4 linked regions of the Homo sapiens genome follow. The protein of the gene in region 1 purifies or fractionates together with the protein of each later gene. This does not show direct contact. Each region holds a gene or a part of one and is shown in the gene's direction. Other genes may lie near its edges. The genes, in order: TBX19, PTPN5, CAD and SATB2.

Region 1 (5,481 bases):
GTTGTTGTTAAAATGCAGAATCTGATTGGTAGGTTTGGGTGGGGGCCTGAGATTCTGCATTTCTACCAAGTTCCTGGGTGTTGCTGATATTGCTGTGGCCCACAAGGGTGTAGAGCTGTGCTGTCCAGTGCAGCAGCCACCAGCCACCTGTAGTTGTCAAACACTTGAAATGCAGCTAGTCCAAGTTGAGTGTAATACTCACATAGGATTTTGAAGATTTAGTGTGAAACAAAGAATAAAAATCCCAGTTTTTTATATATATATATAAAAAAATATAAAATATATATACCACTATATTACATATATTTTTATATTTTTAAATATAATATAGACTTATATATAAAATAGATAATATATATTTTAATATATATAATTTGTATAAAAATATATATTTTAATATCTATAAAATATATATTAAAAATATATAAATATATAAAAATATAACAGTATATGTAAATATAGATGTTATTATGTAAATATTATGATGTAAATATATACATATAAATATATATATTTACATCAAATGCATGTTGAAATAATATTTTGAATATTTTTGTTAAATAAAATATTAATAAATTAATTTTTTTCTAAATGTGGCTACTAGAAAATTTAAACTTACACATGTAGTTGGCATTTATGGTTTGCATTTTGACGCTGATCTAGAGGATCATTTGCATTTGACACTGATCTAGAGGATCTGAGGGAAAAACATTGATTTGGGCTGTGGTAGGAAGTGAGAAAGAGAGTGAAGATGAGGTTCCCTGAAGATATTAAACAATCATGTGCCAAGTTGTATACTAGATACTTACATATATATAAGTCATCCATATATAAGTCATCTGTAGTACTCAAAGACAACTATAAGGCAGGTATTAAAATTCCTATTTTGCTGATGAAGAAACTGAAGCTCAGAGGCCTTAAAAACTTCCTGAAGGTTCTGCAGTAAGCAGTACCTCTCAGAGCCCATGGTTCTCCCACTGGCCCAGGAGGCATCAGAAAGGGTCTGTAAGAGATAATGTAGAAGAGCATCTTCTGAAGATTGGGGCCAGAATCCCCATAAGCTGAGCTAGCTCAGAGAGAGCTCAGAGGATGGGCTGCTGAAGGTTTCATATGGTCCAAAGAGGCCTGTAGCATTGAAAAATGGCACCAGGTGAAGGATGGCATTGCCAACTCTGGCTTCCCTGTTGGTGTGTTTAACTCATTCCTGACTCCATAAATATTTTGTTAGAAACAAAACAAAACAAATGTATTCAATATTGCCATTGGATAATAAGCATATTATCAAGCAATACAGTGTTGGGCAATGCAGAAACTCTAAAATGTAAGAAACATAGTGATGACTACAGGCCGAAAACATTGGGTTCATTGCACCTGTTCCAACTGCATCTATATTAAGGTGCAAGCTTGGCTGTACATTACAGTCACCTGGGAAACTTAAAAAAATCCTCGTACTCAGGCTGCATGCCAGATCAGTTCAATCAGAATCTCTGGGGCAGGGGAGTGGGGTGAGAGTGGGATCCAGGCACCAATATTACTTTAAAAACCCCCCCTAGTGATTCCAATGTGCCGAATGTGCAATCAAGTGTGTGAACCTGTGCTACAGAACTAGAGAAGGCAAAGAAAATGTTGTAGCTCCCAGCCTTTCAGCCAGGCACCAGAGCTCACAGGCGGAGACCAGGAATGGAAGAATTAATGTTAACAACCACCATTTACTGAGTACTACATGCTAAGGACCATATACTCCTCTTATTTAATCCTTGTAGCAATCTCTGTAAGGTAGGTAAAATTATGAATCCACATCTTGAAGATGAGAAATTGACACTCAGAGATATTAAATAATCTAGCCAAGGCCACAGAGCTAATTAAGTGGTAGAGCTGGGATTTAAACTTAAGTCTTCTGACAGTGATGTTTCCTGGTTATTATGCCACATTGGCCAGGGAGAGATCATATGCAGAAATCATACAGTTTTAATACCTTTTTTTCTACTGCCCTGCCAATTTTACATAGGCTGCAAGGGAGCCCAGATAAATGAAATTCTGTGTCTAAAACCAAATAATTCGCTGGTGGCCGGGCCAGTACCAGAATACTTAATCTTATCATTATTCCACCATACTTTGCTGCTTCTCTTAGCTTTTCTGCAGAAACAGGACCAATCTGCGTCATAGCTAGAAATAAAGCCATGGCCAGAAGCCCTCCTGTAACCATGCCCTTCTCAGCACTGTGTACATGCTTGTCAGGTGGCACTCCTTCCTTGGAGTGCCAGTGAACATTCCCTTCCCCTCTTTCTCTGTCTCTGCAGCCCCTACCCGTGCCTGTGGACCATCAGCAATGGTGCCGGAGGCCCCAGTGGGCCAGGCCCGGAGGTGCACGCCAGCACCCCAGGAGCATTTCTCCTCGGAAACCCAGCTGTGACTTCACCCCCTTCTGTGCTCTCCACCCAAGCACCCACTTCGGCTGGTGTGGAGGTTCTGGGGGAGCCCTCGCTAACCAGCATTGCTGTGTCCACCTGGACAGCAGTGGCCTCGCATCCCTTCGCGGGCTGGGGTGGCCCAGGAGCGGGTGGGCACCATTCTCCTTCCTCACTGGATGGTTAAGCAGGATCCTAGGAGCCTCTTTGCACAGCGATCCTTCCATGTGTAGAGTGCTTAGAAACCCCATCAACTGATCTAGTGAGTCAGACTGTGGAATCTCCCTTCCCACTAGCTGGAGGTGGAGGTGGGTTATTACAGAAGTCATACTGGGAGAGGGTTCAGTTTGGATGATGCTAGTTAGATCATTTGCATCTCTCCACCATTTTCTTCTGCACTCCCATTTTCTCTGCAGCTTATTCTTGCCATGCTTAGGTGACAGAAGTTTGTTAAGTACCATCCTTGTGCCCTGCCTCTTATTCTCAAATCGTTCTGGAAAGCCTCACTTCCTTTTCTGTGGAGAAGGTGCAAAGCTGTTAAATGAGCTCAGAGTTTACCTAGCTAAGGCCACTGCTTCCTGCTTTGTGAAGCCTGGAAAGTATGTGTGGCCACAGGGCTCAGGTTCACACTTCTGCTTTGAGACCAGGATGGGGTGTAAGCCATAGAGTAAGGTTAACAAAAAGAATAAAGCTAATCATGTATTACAAACAGCAGTGTGCCCAGACTTGTGGAAATGAAGTCATGTCACTCCTCTGCTCAGAAACCTTCAATGGTTCACCATTACCAGTGGAATGAAGTCAATTCTCCTCACTATAACTGGGTGTGGTAGTTTAAGCCTATAATCTCAGCCCTTTTGGAGGCCAAGGTAAGAGGATCGCTTGAGGTCAGGAGTTCGAGACCAGCTTGTGCAACAAAGTGAGAGCCTGTCTCTACAAAAAATAGTCATGCACACAAAATTAGCTGGGCATGGTGGCCTGTGCCTATAGTCCCAACTACTTAGAGGAGGATCGCTTGATCTCAGGAGGTTGAGGCTGCAGTGAATTATGATTGTGGCATTGCACTCCAGCCTGGGTGGTAGATCAAGGCTTTGTTTCATTTGAAAAAAAAGAAAGAAAGAAAGAAAGAAAGAAATCCTACTACGAGCGATCACACCATCTGGCCTGAAACCACTTCCCCAGCTTAGGTCCCTCTGTTATCCTGTTGGCCTCCTATGTATTGGTCAAGGCAGGCATCTCTGTTCTCTGAACATTCATTGCACTTTCCCACCTCTATACCTTGCCTGTGCCTTAGTGTCCTCTTTTTTCCAGTTCACCTGTGCGAATCCGACCCACCTCCCAGAGCCTGGCTGAAACGTCACTCCCTGCATCCAACATCTGATCTGCTGAGATATGTCTGATCTATCTCTGCTCGCTGTTCTCCCGTTGTTTTTGCCTCTGCCATAGAGCTCACCTCATTTTGCCTTGTATTTTTGTTACCTGTGAGTGTGTCTCTCCCTATTAGACTGTAAGCCTCTCGAGGGTGAGGCCTAGCCTTCTTGTCTTTGTAACCCACAGCAGCTGGTACTGTGCCTTGCCTATTGTAGGTGCCCAATAAACATTTGCTGAACTGAATTGGTGTAATGTGCATGTGTGCTACAAGGACGGTGTGAAGTGGCTGGGGGGCAGATCTCAGAGACACATGCCCCATGACACATAGGTGCATCCGTGTGGGAGCCTAGGAACATGCTGGCTGTTAGTTACACGGGCTTCTCATCTGAGGCACCACCAATTGTCAGTGAATGACAATCATATATGGAGACAGGGTGTGTTAGAGTGGTTATTCCCAAATACTGGTTCTTGGATCCCCTAAGTCAGGATCACCTGGAACAGGGGACCCTTGCTAGACATACAGATTCGTGGGTATACCCCGTACCTGTTGGATCAGAATCTTTGGGGCTGGCGTTCAGGAATCTGCATTTCAAACAAGAGCTCCAGGCATTGGCCCTGGGCTAGGTTTGGAAACTCCTTGCCTAGAAGAGAGAAACAGGATGATAAATACTCCAGGAACCTTATTTCAGATGAGTTTTTACCTCTGCCCCAGCCAAGGTCATTGCTATAACCCGTGAGCAGAATCAGTTTCGTGAGTCTTCCTCCTCTTTTTCTACCTACTACTGGATGTGCTAATAACCTTGGGAGTGAGGTTTCCAGACCTGGGTGATGAGCAGTTCTCCAAACATTGACTTTAGACTGCACTGGCTGAGCAGCCCTTCTCAGGGCCGCCACTTGAGGAGTCTAAAGTTCCACTTGGAGCCTAGCATTGGCTCAGCTGCTTCCACCACTATTCCATCAGCTGAACCCGTGCAAACCCAGCCCACTCCAAGGCTTAGTCTGAGGGGTCCAAACATGGTACTATTGAGTCCTTGGCTCTTTCTATAGCGAAAGGTCCTTTAACATGCTATGGTGTCACAACTGGTGTCACTGCCCAATATTTCTGTGCTGTTCTGTTTTTTGGATCTCAGGAAACAATACTACTCCAGCTACGTGGTGTCCAGGGAAGACTCATTGCCTGACTTCAGGTTGCCTGGCCAGCGCTCTGGGCCACTAGTTGGCGTGTGAGTGGCCAAGGCACAATGGATCCATGCATTTGGAAAGCTGTCTGGTCAGCATGCCCCTAAGGCAGCATTGTTCCTGTTTCCCAGTCCCTTTACAATACCATTAGAGGTCACTAAGGTATTAATATATTAGTATCTCTGCAAGACAGTACTTTGGTAAGTTATAACAGATGGTCATTTCTCAATCTGCTAGAACTTTAGGCTACTGTGGCCTGTAATTGCCACAGCAGGTCTGACCAAGGCCTCTTTACTGGTCACTGCAGCAAGTCTTGGCACCAAGTCCTTCACATGTCCTGTACCAAGAGCTCAGCAAGTGTAATTAGGGAATAAAAACCCACCTTGAGTCTCACCCTTCCTGCACTTCCCCTAGCCTGGAGCAGACAGAAGACCTGGCCCAGGGACACAGAACAGAAAGAAGCTCGTAGCCTCCATTATATTTTCATTTATATTGCTCAGGTGAATGGGGTCCTCTGCAGCATGAT
Region 2 (5,931 bases), on another chromosome or scaffold:
CTAGGTGACATGCAGGCTCAGTCTTAGAATCACAGGATCTCTGGACCCCCAGTCCAGATTCCATCTGCAGCCACAGGTCTGTCACCTGTCATATGTAGAAGGTAGAAACTCAGGTCATCTCAAGGGGAAAAAAGAAAAACAAAAACTAGAAACTCTTTTCTCTTTTAAGCAGTGTTATCACCAAAAGGCTCTTCCTTATCTTAGGGGATTGTGGAAAATAAGATTCCCCCTATTCTAGGCCGGGTGCGGTGGCTCACGCCTGTAATCCCAGCACTTTGAGAGGCCGAGGTGGGCGGATCATGAGGTCAGGAGATCGAGACTATCCTGGCTAACATGGTGAAATCCCGTGTCTACTAAAAATACAAAAAATTAGCCAGGCGCCGTGGCAGGCGCCTGTAGTCCCAGCTACTCAGGAGGCTGAGGCAGGAGAATGGCATGAACCCAGGAGGCGGAGCTTGCAGTGAGCCGAGATAGAGCCACTGCAGTACAGCCTGGGCGAAAGAGCGAGACTCCGTCTCAAAGAAAAAAAAAAAAAAATAGATTCCCCCCATTCTTTAACATCATCTCCATCTTTTCTGCATCTGGTGAGATGTGGAACGAGCATCATGGCCACCGGTGTCTGGCAAAACTCAGTAATTTCCAAACTCTTAGACTGAGAAAAGCTTTTCCCACTGTGCTGCAGCACATGGAACAGAAGCCACCCTCCTTCCTTTGTCCCCATTGAAGCAAGCGTGACTCAAGTTTCTATACCTGGGGTGTAGCATGTTGGATGGGGAGGGGATCCCCTCACACCAGATGCGGGAGATCCACTGTTTGCAGATTTGTAAGGGAACAAGCATCATGGGAATTCCTAACTTTGGGCTAATGTAAGGGATAAACTGTTCACAGCCAAATTTCCTGGTTAGTCCAGTAGCAAAATAAAGACCCTAAATTGCCCTCCTTTTTTGTGGTGAGGTAGTTGGTTGGAGTCATTAGAGAGACACACCAAGTCCTGAAGTGTCTTTCTGAAGAGTCGACATGAAACAGCCCCTCGCCTCCCATTCCTCTGCAAGCCTTTCGGGAGGGATTTGTGGGCCTCAATGGTGGCAGCATATGGGCATCTGGAATCAATTCTGAAGATTCTTGCAAAACTAACAATGTGTGTATTTCATCATCTGCCTAAAGATGTTGTCTGGTATAAATTATAAATTACAGTTGTGAAAATAACCATACTCCATGCTAGAGAACAAACGTAAGATGAACCATCATTTTATATGCCCTATTCTATGTTTTCTGTAAATCTGTATTTTGTAATAGTTGAAATTAGTCCACATATAGGTTTATAGCCTGCATTTTTCACTTAACATTTTGTCATGACTTCTCTGTTTATACTTGGTTGGCTGACCCCTGCTTTATTTAACTATGTCTTTATTGTTGCACATAGTCAATAATGAGCATCTCCAGGCACATAGCTTTTCCATCTCAGAGTCTCAAAGCATCCATCTGAAGCACCCTCAAGAGATATGATGGGATCAAGGTGGTTAAAGAGGGGTGCAAGGAAAAGAACATGTCGTGGCCCTGGCGTCTGGAGTAGAAAAAGAACAGGGAGCTTGGTGCAGTGGCTCATGCCTGTAATCCCAGCACTTTGGGAGGCTGAGGCAGGGGATCATTTGGGGTCAGGAGTTTGAGACCAGCCTGGCCAACACGGTGAAACTCTGTCCCTAGTAAAAATATAAAAATTAGCCAGGCATGGTGGCGCACACCTGCAGCCCCTCCTACTCAGGAGGCTGAGGCATGAGAATTGCTTGAACCCAGGAGGCAGAGGTTGCAGTGAGCCAAGATAGCGCCGCTGCACTCCAGCCTGGGTGACAGAGTGAGACCCTGTCTCAAAAAGAAAAAAAGAAAAAGAACAGGGAACCCAAGAGTTGGAACCAAGGAGAGGATGGAGAGGAAGATAGATCATGGGCCAGGGGGTCAAGGTCACAGAGCCCTAGGGGTGGCAGAGGGACATGCAGCTCTGTCAGATTTCAGAGGGAAGTCTGTCCTTCCAGTGTTTTGTTTGTTTGGTGTGGGAGGCTTTTATTAAATTGTGGTAAAATACACATAACACGAAATTTACCATTTTAACCAATGTTAACTGTATAATTTTGTGGCGTTAAGTATATTTACAGTGTTATACAACCATCACCACTGTCCATCTCCAGAATCTTTTTATCTTCCCAGACTGAATCGCTGTACTCATTAAATACTAATTCCTCATTCCCATCTCCCCCAGCCTCTGGTGACCTCCGTTCTACTTTCTGTCTCCATAAATTCACCTATTCTAGGTGCCTCGTGTAAGTGGCATCATGTTTGTCTTTTTTTGTCTGGCTTCTTTCACTTAGCCTAATGTTTTCAAGGGTCGTCTCTGTGGTATCATATATCAGAATCTCATTTATTTTCAAAGCTGAATATATTCCATTGTATGGATATACCACATTGTTTGGCCATTCATCTGTTTCCACCTTTTGGCTATTGTGAATAATACGGCTATGAACATTGGTGTGCCAGGATCTGTTTGAGCCCCCGCTTTCAATTCTTTGGGGTATATACCTCGCAGTGGAATTGCTGGATCGTATGATCATTCTGTGTTTCACTTTTTGAGAGGTGCAGGGTGCATTTTTTAAAAAGGATTTTTGTGTGCCCAGTATGAAGACCACTGAGTGAAGTCTTAGGAATAGAGAGTCCAGGAAGAAGCTGTTAATTTAAAAACTAAATGTTGTTTGGGTTCTGCATGGCCATGGAGGTAACAGAGAAGAGAGAAGAGGGAACAGAATACAAATGAGTCTGACTCCGTTTCTGAAGAATTGTTGTGATTTAGAGGCATTGTGGGTGGAAAAAGAAAGCTCTCAGGAGAGATCTTAGTGGGTGGAATTGATTCAAGCATGCAAGTATTTACTGTACCAGGCACTGTGGTGGACACAAGGCCCTCAGCAATCAACACGACCACAAGGACCCTGCCCGCAAGGAGCTTAATGTCTAGTGGAGGTGCCAGAGGAGTCACCTGGCAACAGTGGTCTGTACTGATGCATTCTAGGCTCATCATAAGCACTCACTCTTACTGAGTGCTTACTACATTATCTCAATCTTGGTGACAGTTCAGTGAAGACGGTTTCTGTTATCCTCAATTTGCAGGTGAGGAAACAGAGAGCTTGAGTAACTCTATTTCAGGTACGCACAGCAAGAGTCAGAGCCAGAATTTAAACCTAGGCAGTAACTGTGCTCTGTAGGGCTGTGGGAACACAGGAGAGACACCTGCCCAGGACGGAGGTCAGAGAAGGCTTTCCGAAGGCAGGGGTCAGGTGAGTATTTTCACGCAAGTCAGCTGTGTTCTTCTTTAGCCCATGATGTAAAACAGTGCTTTCCTATAGTAGCAGCAGTAGCGTTCAGCCCTGCTTCCAGGGACTCTAGACACTCAGGGAGACCCCTTCACTGAGACTCCACTTCAGAGGAAGATGATCACTTCTATCATCCTTGCTGCTTATCATGAGGCAGGGAGGCTGGGGGTGAGGCATTGCCATTTCCCACTGCCATCTGCTGCCTCTGCTACTTCCCTAGCTGGTCAGCATCTGAGGTACCTCAGAGGGACCTCCTGGGGCCCCTTCGGGGCAGCATCAGGCCAGTGGGCTAAGAGTTAGGCAAATACGAGGCCTAGGAGTGGCAGTGAAAATCATATATCCACCTTCTGTGCCACATCACTGTCCCAAGATACTCCCACCACCACAGAGCCCTGTCTTACCAAAGTACAGATGTGGCCAAGTCTCTGGTGTTTCCATCCTTCTGTGGCTCCCCATAGCTTGCAGCCGTATTTCTCAACAGGGACCTACTGGCCTTTGGGTGGGAGAGTTCTTTGATGTAAAAGCATCCCTGGCCCCATCTCCTATATATTTGCCTGGAGCACCCTTCAGTCATTATAACAACCAAAAATGCTCACACATGTTCTTCAGGTTTACTTTACAAGCAGTCCAATGTATAGATCTTAAGTGTTCTGTTCAGTGCATTTTGACAACTGCATGAGCTCATATAACCATCACCAAGAGCAAGACTCAGAAGATTTCCATCACCCGCAAAAGTTCAGAGATAACGATTATTCCAATTTCTATCATTGTAGATGGATTTTGTCTGTTCCTAATCGTCATATAAGTGGAATCATATAGTACATGCTCTTTTGTGTCATGAAATAGTTTTTAAGAAGCCAGACGCAGTGGCTCATACCTGTAACCCCAGCACTTTGGAAGGCCAAGACGGGTGGATCATCTGAGGTCAGGAGTTCGAGACCAGCCTAGCCAACATGGTGAAATCCCATCTCTACTAAAAATACAAAAATTAGCTGGGCATGGTGGTACACACCTGTAGTCCCAGCTACTCGGGAGGCTGAGGCAGGAGAATCCCTGGAACCTGGGAGGTGGAGGTTGCAGTGAGCCAAGATCATGCCACTGCACTCAAGCCTGGGTGACAGAACGAGACTCCATCTCCAAAAAAAAAAAAAGACATAGTTTTTGAGATCCATCCACGTTGTCACGTTTTCCCCACTAACCCCCAATACACACACAGATTTCTAAATGCCAACTAGCATGGCAATACCTGCCTCTGTCCCCCTGAGAAAAAATGGCCTGTGAGTCAAAGTTAGTGTGTCTTAGGCTGATTCATGAAGCCGTCTGCTGTGTGACAAGAGTCCCTCTTACGTCTACTCTGTGGCTACACTGAGCTGCCTCGTCTGCCTGGCATACCTTGTGCTTTCACCTCTCCGGGCCTTTGCCCTGCAGTGTTCCCTGCCTGGAATGTCCTCCCTGTATCTGGTGAACTCCTGCTTGTCCTTCGGGTCTCTTCTGTGCAGCTTCCCAGACTCTGTTTTTGTGCCCTCCTGAGTGCTCCCATAAGACAGCCTCAGTGGGCCTTTAATGCATTTCTCACTCAACTCACTAGGCCGAATGCTGGGTGGAGGGCAGGGACTGGCTCTTAGTTATCTGTGTGTCCCCCAAGGCTCAGTACAGAGCCTGATATTAAAGAAATTGATATAAGATTATAGTAAGATTATCTTAGAGACAAACTGGGTTTAAAATACAAAATATATTCTGAACCACCCCCTGGAGCTAATAAAGTTGGAGCTGGGCATGGTGGCTCATGGCTGTAATCCCAGCACCAGGCCGAGGCGGGTGGATCACTTGAGGTCAGGAGTTTGACACCACCCTAGCCAATATGGTGAAACCCCATCTCTACTAAAAATACAGAAACTAGCCAGGTGTGGTGGCAGGCTCCTGTAGTCCCAGCTACTTGGGAGGCTGAGGCAGGAGAATTGATTAAACCCGGGAGGCGGAGGCTGCAGTGAGCCTAGATCGCGCCGCTGCGCTCCAGCCTGGGTGACAGAGGAAGACTCCATCTCAAAAAAAAAAAAAAGTGGTCAAAAAAAGACAGTCTGATCTCTGGCTACAGATGATAAATGTAAACTGACTTCCTGCCAGTGAGGCAGAGACCTCCATCCCTTCCCCAGAGGACCTAGCATCATGGGAAGTGGCATGGATGAGTGCAAAGTAGCGCAGCTCAGGGAGTCAAGGGGGCCGGGGCGGGGCCGGGGGGGTGCGGCAAAGATCAGAGTCAATCTCAGAAGGCTGCCTGGAGGAGGTGAGTTCCAAAGGTTTTCAAAGAGGTCTCTGTGTCAAGCCTAGGAGTTGCATAATCAGAGTGTGAGAGCCCTAAAGCATGATTCAAGGCCACCTGGATCGTGGGCCTGATCTGTCCTCTCATGACCCTGGTACTGAGTGTCATGCAGCAGCCCTTCCCTCTTCCTTCACTCCTTTCCACTCATGTCTTTCTTCTTTTTCTCCCACTTGGTCTTTCCTTCCCATCTTCCTTCCAAATCTGAGTGTAAAGGAAAGAGCTGGACCTGCCTTCCATGTTTTTTTCTCCTCTGCA
Region 3 (5,931 bases), on another chromosome or scaffold:
TTGCAGGTGAGGTGGCTCCCACCTGTAATCCCAGCACTTTGGGAGGCCAAGGTGGGCGGATCACTGGAGGTCAGGAGTTCGAGACCAGCCTGGCCAACATGGTGAAACTCTGTCTCTACTAAAAATACAAAAGTTGGCCAGCCATGGTGGCGTGCGCCTGTAATCCCAGCTACTCCAGAGGCTGAGGCAGGAGAATCGCTTGAACCTGGGAGGTGGAGGTTGCAGTGAGCGGAGATCGTGCCATTGCCCTCCAGCCCGGGAAACAGAGGGAGACTCCGTCTCAAAAAAAAAAAAAAAACAAAAAGGAAACAGGAGTGAGGCTACTGAGAACAGGAGATCGGTGAGAGCTGGGGTAGGTTCAGTAGTGAAGAGAGGGTGAGCAGGGCCTGTGACTCGGCATGCTTCTACCTCCAGATATGGGAACCGAGGCCATAACCAGCCCTGCTTGTTGGTGGGCTCTGGGCGCTGCTTTCTGACATCCCAGAACCATGGGTTTGCTGTGGAGACAGACTCACTGCCAGCAGACTGGGCTCCTCTCTTCACCAACGCCAATGATGGTTCCAATGAAGGCATTGTGCACAACAGCTTGCCTTTCTTCAGGTGAGCCTGGTTGACTGGGTCTGTGAAAATTTGAAGCCCTGTGGGCCTTGATGATGGAAAAGTAAAGCACGGCAGTGGATCCGAGTCCCCTGTCCCACTACCCACCTCGAGGCTGCCAGTGTCATGCCAGGGACCATGATGGTTTTCATGATGCAATCTCTTCAATAGTGTCCAGTTTCACCCAGAGCACCAAGCTGGCCCTTCAGATATGGAACTGCTTTTCGATATCTTTCTGGAAACTGTGAAAGAGGCCACAGCTGGGAACCCTGGGGGCCAGACAGGTAAGATCCTGAGTAGAACTGGGTTGTGGACCTAAGAACAGGGTTGGCTCCAGGATGGGCATAAGGTGGACATGCCCTGGGCAACTCCTAGATGTCTAGGAGGTTAAGGGTATTGGGGATGGGTGGCAACCAACCCAAGATACCGTTTAAGCTTCTGTTGAAAGGAACTCCAGGGTCCTGGGTTCTGGTCCTCCCTCTGCTCCTCCTGAGGTGCATAATTTGCTCTGGACTCTTCTGAAAGCGAGGGAGCTAATCCAGTTGACCTCTTGGGTCCAGCTCAGCTCTAACATTCTACGACCTTCTTTGCTTCCACAGTTAGAGAGCGGCTGACTGAGCGCCTCTGTCCCCCTGGGATTCCCACTCCCGGCTCTGGACTTCCACCACCACGAAAGGTTCTGATCCTGGGCTCAGGGGGCCTCTCCATTGGCCAAGCTGGAGAATTTGACTACTCGGGCTCTCAGGTGAGGCATGTTCCTCCCCACCCTTCTGGGCGTGTGACCCTCAAGAATGGAAAGGGTCTTAAGGAGAAGGGCTAAGGTTGCAGGGAGGAAATGAACCAGATTTGGGGAATGTAGAGAAAGATGTAGTAAGAAATAGAAGTCAATTATTAGGGGCCAAGAGTACAGGGAGGGAAAGAAGAGGAGAATGCTACTCTAAGGCTGTTTGCAATTTTGCTTCTTCAGCAGAGGCTGAGATGCCATTCTTGTCCTTTTAGGCAATTAAGGCCCTGAAGGAGGAAAACATCCAGACGTTGCTGATCAACCCCAATATTGCCACAGTGCAGACCTCCCAGGGGCTGGCCGACAAGGTCTATTTTCTTCCCATAACACCTCATTATGTAACCCAGGTATGACTGGGGCAAGGCTGGAATGAAAAGAGGACTGGGCAGGGGGGCCCAGTGGTCACTGTGGGTTATTAAACTTTGATTGCCTCTCTACCCACAAGGTTCTGATGCCTGTAACTCCCCTCTCCATCCTCAGGTGATACGTAATGAACGCCCCGATGGTGTGTTACTGACTTTTGGGGGCCAGACTGCTCTGAACTGTGGTGTGGAGCTGACCAAGGCCGGGGTGCTGGCTCGGTATGGGGTCCGGGTCCTGGGCACACCAGTGGAGACCATTGAGCTGACCGAGGATCGACGGGCCTTTGCTGCCAGAATGGCAGAGATCGGAGAGCATGTGGCCCCGAGCGAGGCAGCAAATTCTCTTGAACAGGTTGGAGGGGTGTTTGGGTAAAGGAAGAATGGTGGTGTTTTTTTTGGTAGTGTTATTTTCTTTTTTTTTTTTTTTTTTTTGAGACGGAGTTTCGCTCTTGTTGCGCAGGCTGGAGTACAGTGGCGTGATCTCGGCTCATCATAACCTCCACCTCCCAGATTCAAGCGACTCTCCTGCCTCAGCTTCCTGAGTAGCTGGGATTACTGGCATGCGCCACCATGCCCAGCTAATTTTGTATTTTTAGTAGAGACGGGGTTTCTCCATGTTGGTCAGGCTGATCTCGAACTCCTGACCTCAGGTGATCCACCCCCCCGACCCTCGGCCTCCCAAATTGCTGGGGTTACAGGCGTGAGCCACTATGCCCAGCCATGTTATTTTCTTTATATCTTTTTTTATGTGGGACAGGCACACCTTGGACAGTAGGAAATAACCTGTTTGTTCATCTCTTCCACTCATTGCAGGCCCAGGCAGCCGCTGAACGGCTGGGGTACCCTGTGCTAGTGCGTGCAGCCTTTGCCCTGGGTGGCCTGGGCTCTGGCTTTGCCTCTAACAGGGAGGAGCTCTCTGCTCTCGTGGCCCCAGCTTTTGCCCATACCAGCCAAGTGCTAGTAGACAAGTCTCTGAAGGGATGGAAGGAGATTGAGTACGAGGTGGTGAGAGACGCCTATGGCAACTGTGTCACGGTGAGTGAATGGGGGAAGGGTGGGCGTCGTGTCAGGCAGGATGAGCTTTTGGAAGAGCAGAGGCCCAGGCCAAGGTCTTTGAGAGTTGTATGTCCCTCAGACCCAGGTTAGGTGCAGCCCCAGAGGTAACAGGACCCTGGGGTGCAGCCTTCTGCCTCTCCTGACTCTGCTTGGCAGTGACCTCCATGGCACCCCCCTTCACAGGTGTGTAACATGGAGAACTTGGACCCACTGGGCATCCACACTGGTGAGTCCATAGTGGTGGCCCCTAGCCAGACACTGAATGACAGGGAGTATCAGCTCCTGAGGCAGACAGCTATCAAGGTGACCCAGCACCTGGGAATTGTTGGGGAGTGCAATGTGCAGTATGCCTTGAACCCTGAGTCTGAGCAGGTAAGCTCTAGGCCCTGGAACTGATAGTCTAGTTGTTACCCCCTCTTCTTGTATAATTTTTGGCCCTTGAGGTTGAGGTCTTTTGGGCTTACAGTCCCTGGAGTACAAGCTGGAATCTTCTTTACTAGGTTACTTTTCTCTCCTTTCTGAGACCTCTCCTAGACAGGGTCTTCTAGGCCAGTGACTTTATTCTCCTTCTTTGCAGTATTACATCATTGAAGTGAATGCCAGGCTCTCTCGCAGCTCTGCCCTGGCCAGTAAGGCCACAGGTTATCCACTGGCTTATGTGGCAGCCAAGCTAGCATTGGGCATCCCTTTGCCTGAGCTCAGGTACGAGGATGAGGGAGATATCACAGTGGGGAAGTGGGTCGGGGGCTGAGGAAAATATTGATGGGACAGGGAATATGAAAAGGACATTGGCCTGGATTTGTGGGAATGGAAAGAGCTATCCGGAAGCTCACCCTTTATGCTTCCTTCACTGTCCTTCTGGCATCCCACCTGCTGGACCCCAGGAACTCTGTGACAGGGGGTACAGCAGCCTTTGAACCCAGCGTGGATTATTGTGTGGTGAAGATTCCTCGATGGGACCTTAGCAAGTTCCTGCGAGTCAGCACAAAGATTGGGAGCTGCATGAAGAGCGTTGGTGAGACTCATGCCCTGGGCACCCCCATGGGGCCCCACCATGACCAAGAATCTTAAATGTCAAGAGTTCCCTGGCATGGCCTTTTACGTCCTATGGGAGCAGGTGCTTGAGACATTTCAAACTAAGATTATAGTCCTTGTCAGGAGTTGGGGAGGCATCTGGAAATCTGTGTTGGAATACAGAATCTCTGGGATAGGTGCAAGCCATCAGACTATCTCATCTCATTTTTGCAGTATCTCCTCCTCTGGCACTTTGTGCTTTGGTCACTAAATGACCTTTTTTTTTAGTATGATGTTTACATCAGAGCAGGGCATCATAAACCTTTTTGGTAACAAGGAAATTTATTAGTGAATGATGAATGGCCGTAACGTTACCCAGCAGTGGCAGAGCATGTTAGAATTGAGTTAGTATGTTTCTTTGTGGTATCCCTTTAGTTGCCGAAGACCGTCCTCTAACACATTTCAACCAAAACAAAAATATACGTGTACCAGACACAGCGCCACCAGCCTGATGGATAAGAGCATTTTGTGGTGCTCCAGATTTCCATTTAGAGCAGTAGTGGCCTTTAAACAAGTAAGTCTAAGCTCAGATATTATTTCAGAATTTTTAGAAATTCTGCAAGACTGCCAATTTTTTCCTTCTGGAGATGAATCTCTGTTATATGAAAATTAGAATAAACATGGGAATGAAGCCATAATTAAATTGTGGCAAAAAGAAGTGGATTGAAAATAGGCCAATGAAAGATTGGTTCCTAGATGAGACATTTAATTGTTTTACATCTGTTCAAGTATTCTTGGAATGTGGTCTTCTTTGGTAACTTTTTGTAACTTTTATTATACAAGTAAGAAACATGAATCATGGAAAACGAGGAAAGATAGTTTAACCAAAGAACAGTAGTCACCTGTAATCTTGCCTTACAGAGATTGATTAATTCGACCGTGTATCTGCGACTGCATAATTCAGCCGTGTATCTACGACTGCATACATTTCTAGGCATATGTGTATGCATGTATTAGGCTTCTCCTTTTTTAACAAATCTCAAAATAAAAAGTCTTACAACCACAGTTACAAAGAAATTGAACAAAATCAGTCACACTACTGTTAACATCGTAGTGTTTTTAAAACTTTTTTAAAGAAATGTAAATGTTAGGATTGTAAATAGAAAAATACACTTGGTAAGAAATACTTAAGCCCCTAGAGTAAATAGTCAGAGGAGATGAACAACACTTTACAGAAGAAGAAATCAATAAGCAAACCTAGAGAAAAGACGGTTCCTCTCATTAGTAAATAGAAATCTAGTTAAATGAGACTCTGTTTATGCCCACTTCTTAGAAGGTTGCTTAAACTTTGTATTATGAAGCACAGACTTCTATAAAGTTATTCGTACTCATCAAGGGCTATAAAATTTGTGTTACCTATTGCCTCTACATATCTGGAAATTTATCCTAAGGAGATTATCCAAAACAGAAAACATCATATCCAGTCCAGGCACGGTGGTTGTAATTAATCCCAGCACTTTGGAAAGCTCAGGTGGGAGGATCGCTTGAGCCCACGAGTTCAAGGTTGCAGTGAGCTGTGATTGTACCACTGCATTCCAGTCTGGGTGCCAGGCTAAGACCCTGTCTTTTTTGTTTGTTTGTTTGTTTGAGACGGATTTTCATTCTTGTTGCCCAGGCTGGAGTGCAATGGTGTGATCTCGGCTCACCACAATCTCTGCCTCCTGGGTTCAAGTGATTCTCCTGTCTCAGCCTCCAGAGTAACTGGGATTACAGGCATGTGCCATCACGCCTGGCTAATTTTGTATTTTAATAGAGACAGGGTTTCTCCCTGTTGGTCAGGCTGGTCTTGAACGCCCGTGCTCAGGTGATCCACCCACCTTTGGCCTCCCAAAGTGCTGGGATTACAGGCCACTGTGCCTGGCCGAGACCCTGTCTCTTTTTTCTTTTCTTTTTTTTTTTTCTTTTTTTTTTTTTTTGAGGCAGAGTCTTCCTCTGTCGCCAGGCTGGAGTGCAGTGGTGCTATCTCGGCTCACTGCAACCTCTGCCTCCCAGGTTCAAGCGATTCACCTGCCTCAGCCTCCTGAGTAGCTGGGACTACAGGCGCGCACAACCACGCCC
Region 4 (5,931 bases), on another chromosome or scaffold:
GGGCTGACTTCTGGGGAGCTGCGACTGGGCAGAGTCGCCGAACCGAGGCGCTGGGCTTCCTGGGGGCCGCCCAGTGTAAGGTTGGGACCGGCTTCCCGGCTCGGGCCCCTCGGGCAGCGTGGGAGGAAGTTTGTGTGGCTGTGGTGCAGCGCTCTGCCACTGGCCTGAACGTCTATCACGTGTATGAGCGGTTTTCCCTCTTTTTTCTCCCTCCCCCTTCCTCCCCCCACCCCCTCCCTAGGTCCCTGTGCGTTTTATTGCGACCTGCCGGTGGGAACTTTGTCTCCGAGTCGGAGCAGCATGGAGCGGCGGAGCGAGAGCCCGTGTCTGCGGGACAGCCCCGACCGGCGGAGCGGCAGCCCGGACGTCAAGGGGCCTCCCCCAGTGAAGGTGGCCCGGCTGGAGCAGAACGGCAGCCCCATGGGAGCCCGCGGGAGGCCCAACGGCGCCGTGGCCAAGGCCGTGGGAGGTAACAGCCCGGAGCAGGGAGGCGCGCAGCCCGCGGCCCAGTGATAATGGCCCGGGTGTCAGGGTTCAGGTTGATTAGGCGCTGTCGCGGTGTAGGATTACAGGAAGTGAATTCCAGGTTGCCAAATAATGCCCCCGTCGCCTCTCATCTGCAACTGGTAGCTTCATCTCCAGTTAAAACAAGAAAGTGGTTTTACCCAGAGGGTGGCATTTTTTGGGCATTTTGCCACTGTGTGCTGAGGTGTTGGCAGGTTTATGTCACAGCCAGCTAACTGTTTCTAGATTTTCCTAGAGAGCTTTTTAGTGATTTAACTCTTTTGCCTTGCCTCGGAGTGTCTGTTGTAGGGATGAAGTTCACGTGCGTTCGCTTTTAGGGAATAAAATAGTCATTAATGCTCAGGCGAGTACAGGAACAAGGAGAGTTGATGTTACTTTGTAGTGAGGACAGTGCTTCAAGACAGATGAATGACAACTGGGAATATTTCCTGCCACGTGAAATGTGGGAAATAAAGAATCACCATGAATCCATCAGGCCCTTAGAAGCTTAAATGCTGCTGTTGTCTATAAAGTTTAGTCATATGCATTCGTAACTTTATTATGAATTATAGGAGAACAGATAAAAATAGCAAAGTAGCCTTATCAACTAGATGTAGTTTCCCCTCCAAAGAATTTATTAATAATTTTATTTAAAGAAAATCTTTTGTAGTTTTTACTACTTAAGCAACTACTTTCTTTTAAAGTGGTCAGGAAAAGCAATCATACAAAATAAAGATATGGGAGAAATTTAAACATTGAAATATTTTGGAGTTTGTATGCCATTTGCTTAGTTGTCTTTTACATGTAAAATCCACAATTCCACATGGCATGCAGGTTTTCTGTGTGTTTGGCATAAATCACTAGTTTAATTTTTTTTGCCTCTAACGTTTTTTCTCTAATAATTTCAACAGTAGCCCATTTAATATTCAATATATTAACTTGTCTTAAATGATATAAAACCTTGGCAAACCTTAATGATAAGCTCCCACCCCCTTGTTGTAAGTGTCTATTGTGTGTATTTCAAAATAGTTACTTACATCTAAAAATGTTCATTCCTCCTTAAAGAGTTGAACACATACGTTTTATAAAATCGTATTTTTTTCTTTTTACTTATTTTGCTATTTCTATTTCTTCATGGTAAATACTTAGGATGGTTTGTCTCAGTCTTTCATATTAATCGTCTCACTTGAGAAGTATTCATCCTTTCAATGTTGTGAGTTAAAAAGTTTGGTGATGGATTCTGGCTTGTTTATCTCCCCTTTTTGGGACTTGAAAATATACTTTATTGAAGCAAAAGAAAACAGTTCTGTGACCCACTTTTTAAAAGAGAGGTTTATTAATTTGTTGTCCTGATACTGGAGCAAATAATGTCAGACTTTTGGCATAATCAGTTAGTATATGCATATAAGAAATAAAAATTCATAGAGTATGATGGTACCAATTATGAGATATGCTAAGTGCTGAAAATGTTTGAAAAAGTTCTGAAACTCCTTGGAGACAGTGTGTTCCAAAGTGGCCTTTGTGGACAGAAAAGGCTTGGACTTAAAATTTTGGTATCTTTCTGAAGATCTAATAAAATTCACTAAATTGAAAGGAGCTGTAAACATTTTAGAATGTAATTGTTAACAACGTGCTTCCCTAAAACAAGTTTTTTCCCCTCCTCTATATCATGTTGAACTATGAAAGAAAGTGCCTTGTTCTGTTGACCAGGGATAACTTTAGTGTTAAATAGTGGTTGGTTTTCAAATTTTCTGAGACTATAGTTCACATTTGAGCCCTTATGTGTTTAATATAAACTAAAATTATTATCTTGGTGAAGAATAATAGATTTGTTTCAACCAGCTGCCTTAGACACTTTCTCTTGATTAACTTAATTTAGTAATAGCAGAGGTCTTATTAGCTGCTTCCCAAATTGAAAATAAAGATGACATTATTTTGTCTCAATACATATCGTTTATAATACACGATAGTAAACTGGTTAAAATTGTTTAGTGGAATTTAAATTTTTTTAAAAAAGACAGCATAATAGTGTGTAAAGAGATTAATTTAGACAACTTTAGAATATAACAACTTAGAAGATAAGATTTTGATAGTACAAAGGTTTCTAATTGAATGTTAACAAAATTATGAGTTTAAGTTTATATAATTTCCAAATGTATGTTAAGATGTTAATAGTTTCTTTGTAACTGTTAACCATGTATACAGTTTGGAGCAAAGCCAGGCCTTTTGAAAAATGCACATTCTAAATTTTAAAAAATGTTTAAAATACATTTCTAGTTAGTTTTTTTATAATTAAAGGATTTTTTTGAACATAGAGTAAATATAAAGTAGATTATATTTCTACCATTCTATGTTCTTTTGTTTAAATTTTCTTTATAAAGCAATATAATAAGCATAGATAACTACACAAGTATTTATAGCTCTGTATCATTTATTACCGTTTTCAGATATATTGCAGTCTTTTCAATGGTGTAATGATGGATACAATAAAATTTGTCTTAAAAGTGGAGCCAAAAATTTGGGAGTACATATTTGTTAATCTTTAGTGTTCCTCTTTCTTAAAAGCTGTTCTTTTAAAAATAAGGGAGATCAAGTTAATTGGTTGTCAAATCAAATAGCAATTTATCTTACTGTTTTTGATAAGCAGTGAGGTAAATATAGTTTAAATATACTTCTGAATGCATTGGTTGCAGTAATAAATTCTGCTGTTACTCTACTTATTTAGGTAGAGGGAATTTACTGTGTTTTTTGATGAGAACTAAGTATTCATAAAAGAAGGGGCATTACTTTAGTGTCTCAATTTAAATAGAAGAGAGGGTAGATACACTGTCACTGTCTTTAAGGTTGTGTTTTAACAGGGGACTTAAAAGTGGATTGTTTACTATGTGGTTAGCTTTAGAAGACTGTTAGAAACTAGATGTTTTGCTTTGTCTTTCCAACACTTTCTGGGATGTTTTTACTCTTATCTGAGCAGTGTGTTTTAAAGCATGTATGTAATAAAATGTAAGTGCTCAGATGTGTATGTCAGTCAGCTTTTACAGACGGTCCTTAGGAAAAAAAAAAGGCTAATATCTCTTTAAAAAACATATGAAGGCTAGGAGAGAGTTTAGAGCTAGCAAGAGCACCATGGTGTTGACAGCTTTATATCCCTGCTGGGTAACATTCACTTACTAGAATTGGCGTCCCCTCTCAGCTAGTAATTCACTCCATAAGGATTTTGAAAAAGGATGATTAATGGTGGGGAAATTTATATTTGTGAAATTGTTGATTAAAACTTACAGATCTATTTGAAGATTTAGGAAAAGAAGGGATTATTAAGGATGATGAAAATAAGAATCAGATGATCCTTTTTACCACTATTAGCATAAGTACCTAAAATGTTCTGCTGTATGGAATGCTTCAGCCATGCAACTTACAGCATAAAATGAAAGTGATGCCAATCAAGTTTCCAGAGGAAGCAAGGCATTCTGCTTTTCTCCTGGACTGCTGAAAGGTGCTGGCCAGTTGTGCTTTAATAGCAATAAATTATTGTGCTTCATTCATTGTTAACACAAGCATTTTCATTTTTTAATGTTTGGCTTAAAGAAGAACTTTCAGACAGCTTTATTTAAACTGAATGAACAGCGCTTGAATATACCAGATGGTGTATTTGCTGATAGGAGACATTAAACATCAGAAATCTTTTTGATATTTTTCATTTTCCTATGAATTTTTATGATTTTTTGGTGTTAAATGTTCTACATTTTAGGGAAAAATATTTAAACATTGAAAATATCTTTTAGAGAGATTTGCTTTTTTTATTAAAAAAACTTGCTTATTTCTGAAAAATAATTTATGTTTTATAAATAACAATTTAATTTTGTTGGCATACTGTCTGTTAAAGTTATCTTATAACTAGTCTACCTGAAGTAGACCTATTCGTGCTACCAGGCAGCCCTTTCAAGAACATAACTGTCTTGTTGCAAGGGGGAAAAAAATCATTATGCAGTACACACTGATGTATTCAAATAGGGAAGCAAATGTGATCAAGATTGTTAGTCAGGGCCTCATTTAAAGCTGAACATTGTCTACAACAACAGTTAGTTTAATTGTCTACATGTGGAACACTTCCTTTTAGATGAAAAGAAATGCAGTTCGGGTCAGGTGTAGTCACCATATCAGCAACAGTAGAGAGACATTTAACTTTTTGAAAGGAATGCAGATATGAAAGTATAGATAGGTATATATTGAGATTATAAAATACTTAGAAATATATTGTTAACATGGGCAAAATGGAGAAAACTCCATTCCCAAGGATGAATATCATAATATTTGTAGGAAGTACACATTACTTCAAAAGAGAAAAGATTGTATTTCTCCCTCCTCACTTTTTTTTTTTTTTTTTAAGGTTTTAAGATCTTTTAAATAGAATGAACTTAGGCTTTGGGGTCATCCAACAATCTAGCCTGTCCTCTGTAGTTTTGCTGAGGTAGAAAAATAACTCTTCTCTAAAGTGTTTTTAGTTCTTGGCCTGTTATTAAAATAAAGATATACTTGGTTAAAAAAATATATGCAGTGGAACATACACATTAAACAGAACATAGGGTATCCGCCCCTCAAAGTCCTGAGCATAATTTGATGTTTCAAGTAATTTTGGAAGCCTTATGTTCCATCAGAAGAAACCCACTGACCATTGTATACTCAAGATCATCTGTAGTGCAGTGTGTGTGTGTGTGTGTGTGTGTGTGTGTGTGTGTGTGTGTTGGAACTACATAGATGTCCCTTAAGGCATCTGTTTTTTAACCCCTGCAGAAAATAAGCAATATCATCCTTTCCCAGAGGGTTGTAACCAGCAAAGTCTGTACATATGAGATATCCTGTTTGAATTCTTCTTTTCTTTCTTGAATTTTGTTTTAACCAATCTATCTCTGTAGAGAAGGGAAAACAGACTAATCATCATTTATTAGATAGCTAAGAATATGAATTTGAGTCATTTTAAGTATACGGAAATCAGTTTTATTCCAGGAAAGACTACAGTAATTATTTGGTATATCTGACAAAGTAGTAAGCAGTGAAGTTTGATGGTTATAATTTAAAACCCCTATTTTTCTTTCTTTTTAAAAAGTATTTATTATAGAATCAGCATATGTGTATATATTTAAAAAGACATGTTAAATTTACAGGGCTAGATGAATTCCAAATAGTATTATTTTCTTGGGTTATACTTATCTTTTAAAGCTTTTTAGGTTTCTGTTGGAATAAAATTTCTCACCATTAAAATGTTTCTTATGACTAAGAACCCACATTAGGTGTGTAAAATATGTACATTGTTTTATTTCAGAAAGCCAAACTTTATCCTATATAGCATGTAAATTAATAAAGAATTCTTTATATTGTTTAATCAGTAGGCTTTTAAAAAACCTATATAACTAATATATGGTAACATAG

What was found.
Region 2: the proteins of TBX19 (region 1) and PTPN5 purify together in Homo sapiens (affinity purification with mass spectrometry; one large-scale study listed by BioGRID and IntAct). This does not show direct contact.
Region 3: the proteins of TBX19 (region 1) and CAD purify together in Homo sapiens (affinity purification with mass spectrometry; one large-scale study listed by BioGRID and IntAct). This does not show direct contact.
Region 4: the proteins of TBX19 (region 1) and SATB2 purify together in Homo sapiens (affinity purification with mass spectrometry; one large-scale study listed by BioGRID and IntAct). This does not show direct contact.

Annotation. Positions count from the first base shown.
Region 1 is NC_000001.11:168,310,408-168,315,888, forward strand, and holds the end of TBX19 (T-box transcription factor TBX19), read left to right. Parts: intron 1-2,300; coding exon 2,301-2,595; 3' UTR 2,596-4,019; downstream 4,020-5,481. UniProt on the Homo sapiens protein: Transcriptional regulator involved in developmental processes. Can activate POMC gene expression and repress the alpha glycoprotein subunit and thyroid-stimulating hormone beta promoters.
Region 2 is NC_000011.10:18,780,808-18,786,738, reverse strand, and holds part of PTPN5 (tyrosine-protein phosphatase non-receptor type 5), read left to right. Parts: intron 1-5,931. UniProt on the Homo sapiens protein: May regulate the activity of several effector molecules involved in synaptic plasticity and neuronal cell survival, including MAPKs, Src family kinases and NMDA receptors.
Region 3 is NC_000002.12:27,223,149-27,229,079, forward strand, and holds part of CAD (multifunctional protein CAD), read left to right. Parts: intron 1-414; coding exon 415-600; intron 601-768; coding exon 769-881; intron 882-1,196; coding exon 1,197-1,342; intron 1,343-1,596; coding exon 1,597-1,728; intron 1,729-1,861; coding exon 1,862-2,095; intron 2,096-2,556; coding exon 2,557-2,778; intron 2,779-2,982; coding exon 2,983-3,171; intron 3,172-3,376; coding exon 3,377-3,501; intron 3,502-3,683; coding exon 3,684-3,814; intron 3,815-5,931. UniProt on the Homo sapiens protein: Multifunctional protein that encodes the first 3 enzymatic activities of the de novo pyrimidine pathway: carbamoylphosphate synthetase (CPSase; EC 6.3.5.5), aspartate transcarbamylase (ATCase; EC 2.1.3.2) and dihydroorotase (DHOase; EC 3.5.2.3).
Region 4 is NC_000002.12:199,450,407-199,456,337, reverse strand, and holds part of SATB2 (DNA-binding protein SATB2), read left to right. Parts: intron 1-241; 5' UTR 242-300; coding exon 301-469; intron 470-5,931. UniProt on the Homo sapiens protein: Binds to DNA, at nuclear matrix- or scaffold-associated regions. Thought to recognize the sugar-phosphate structure of double-stranded DNA.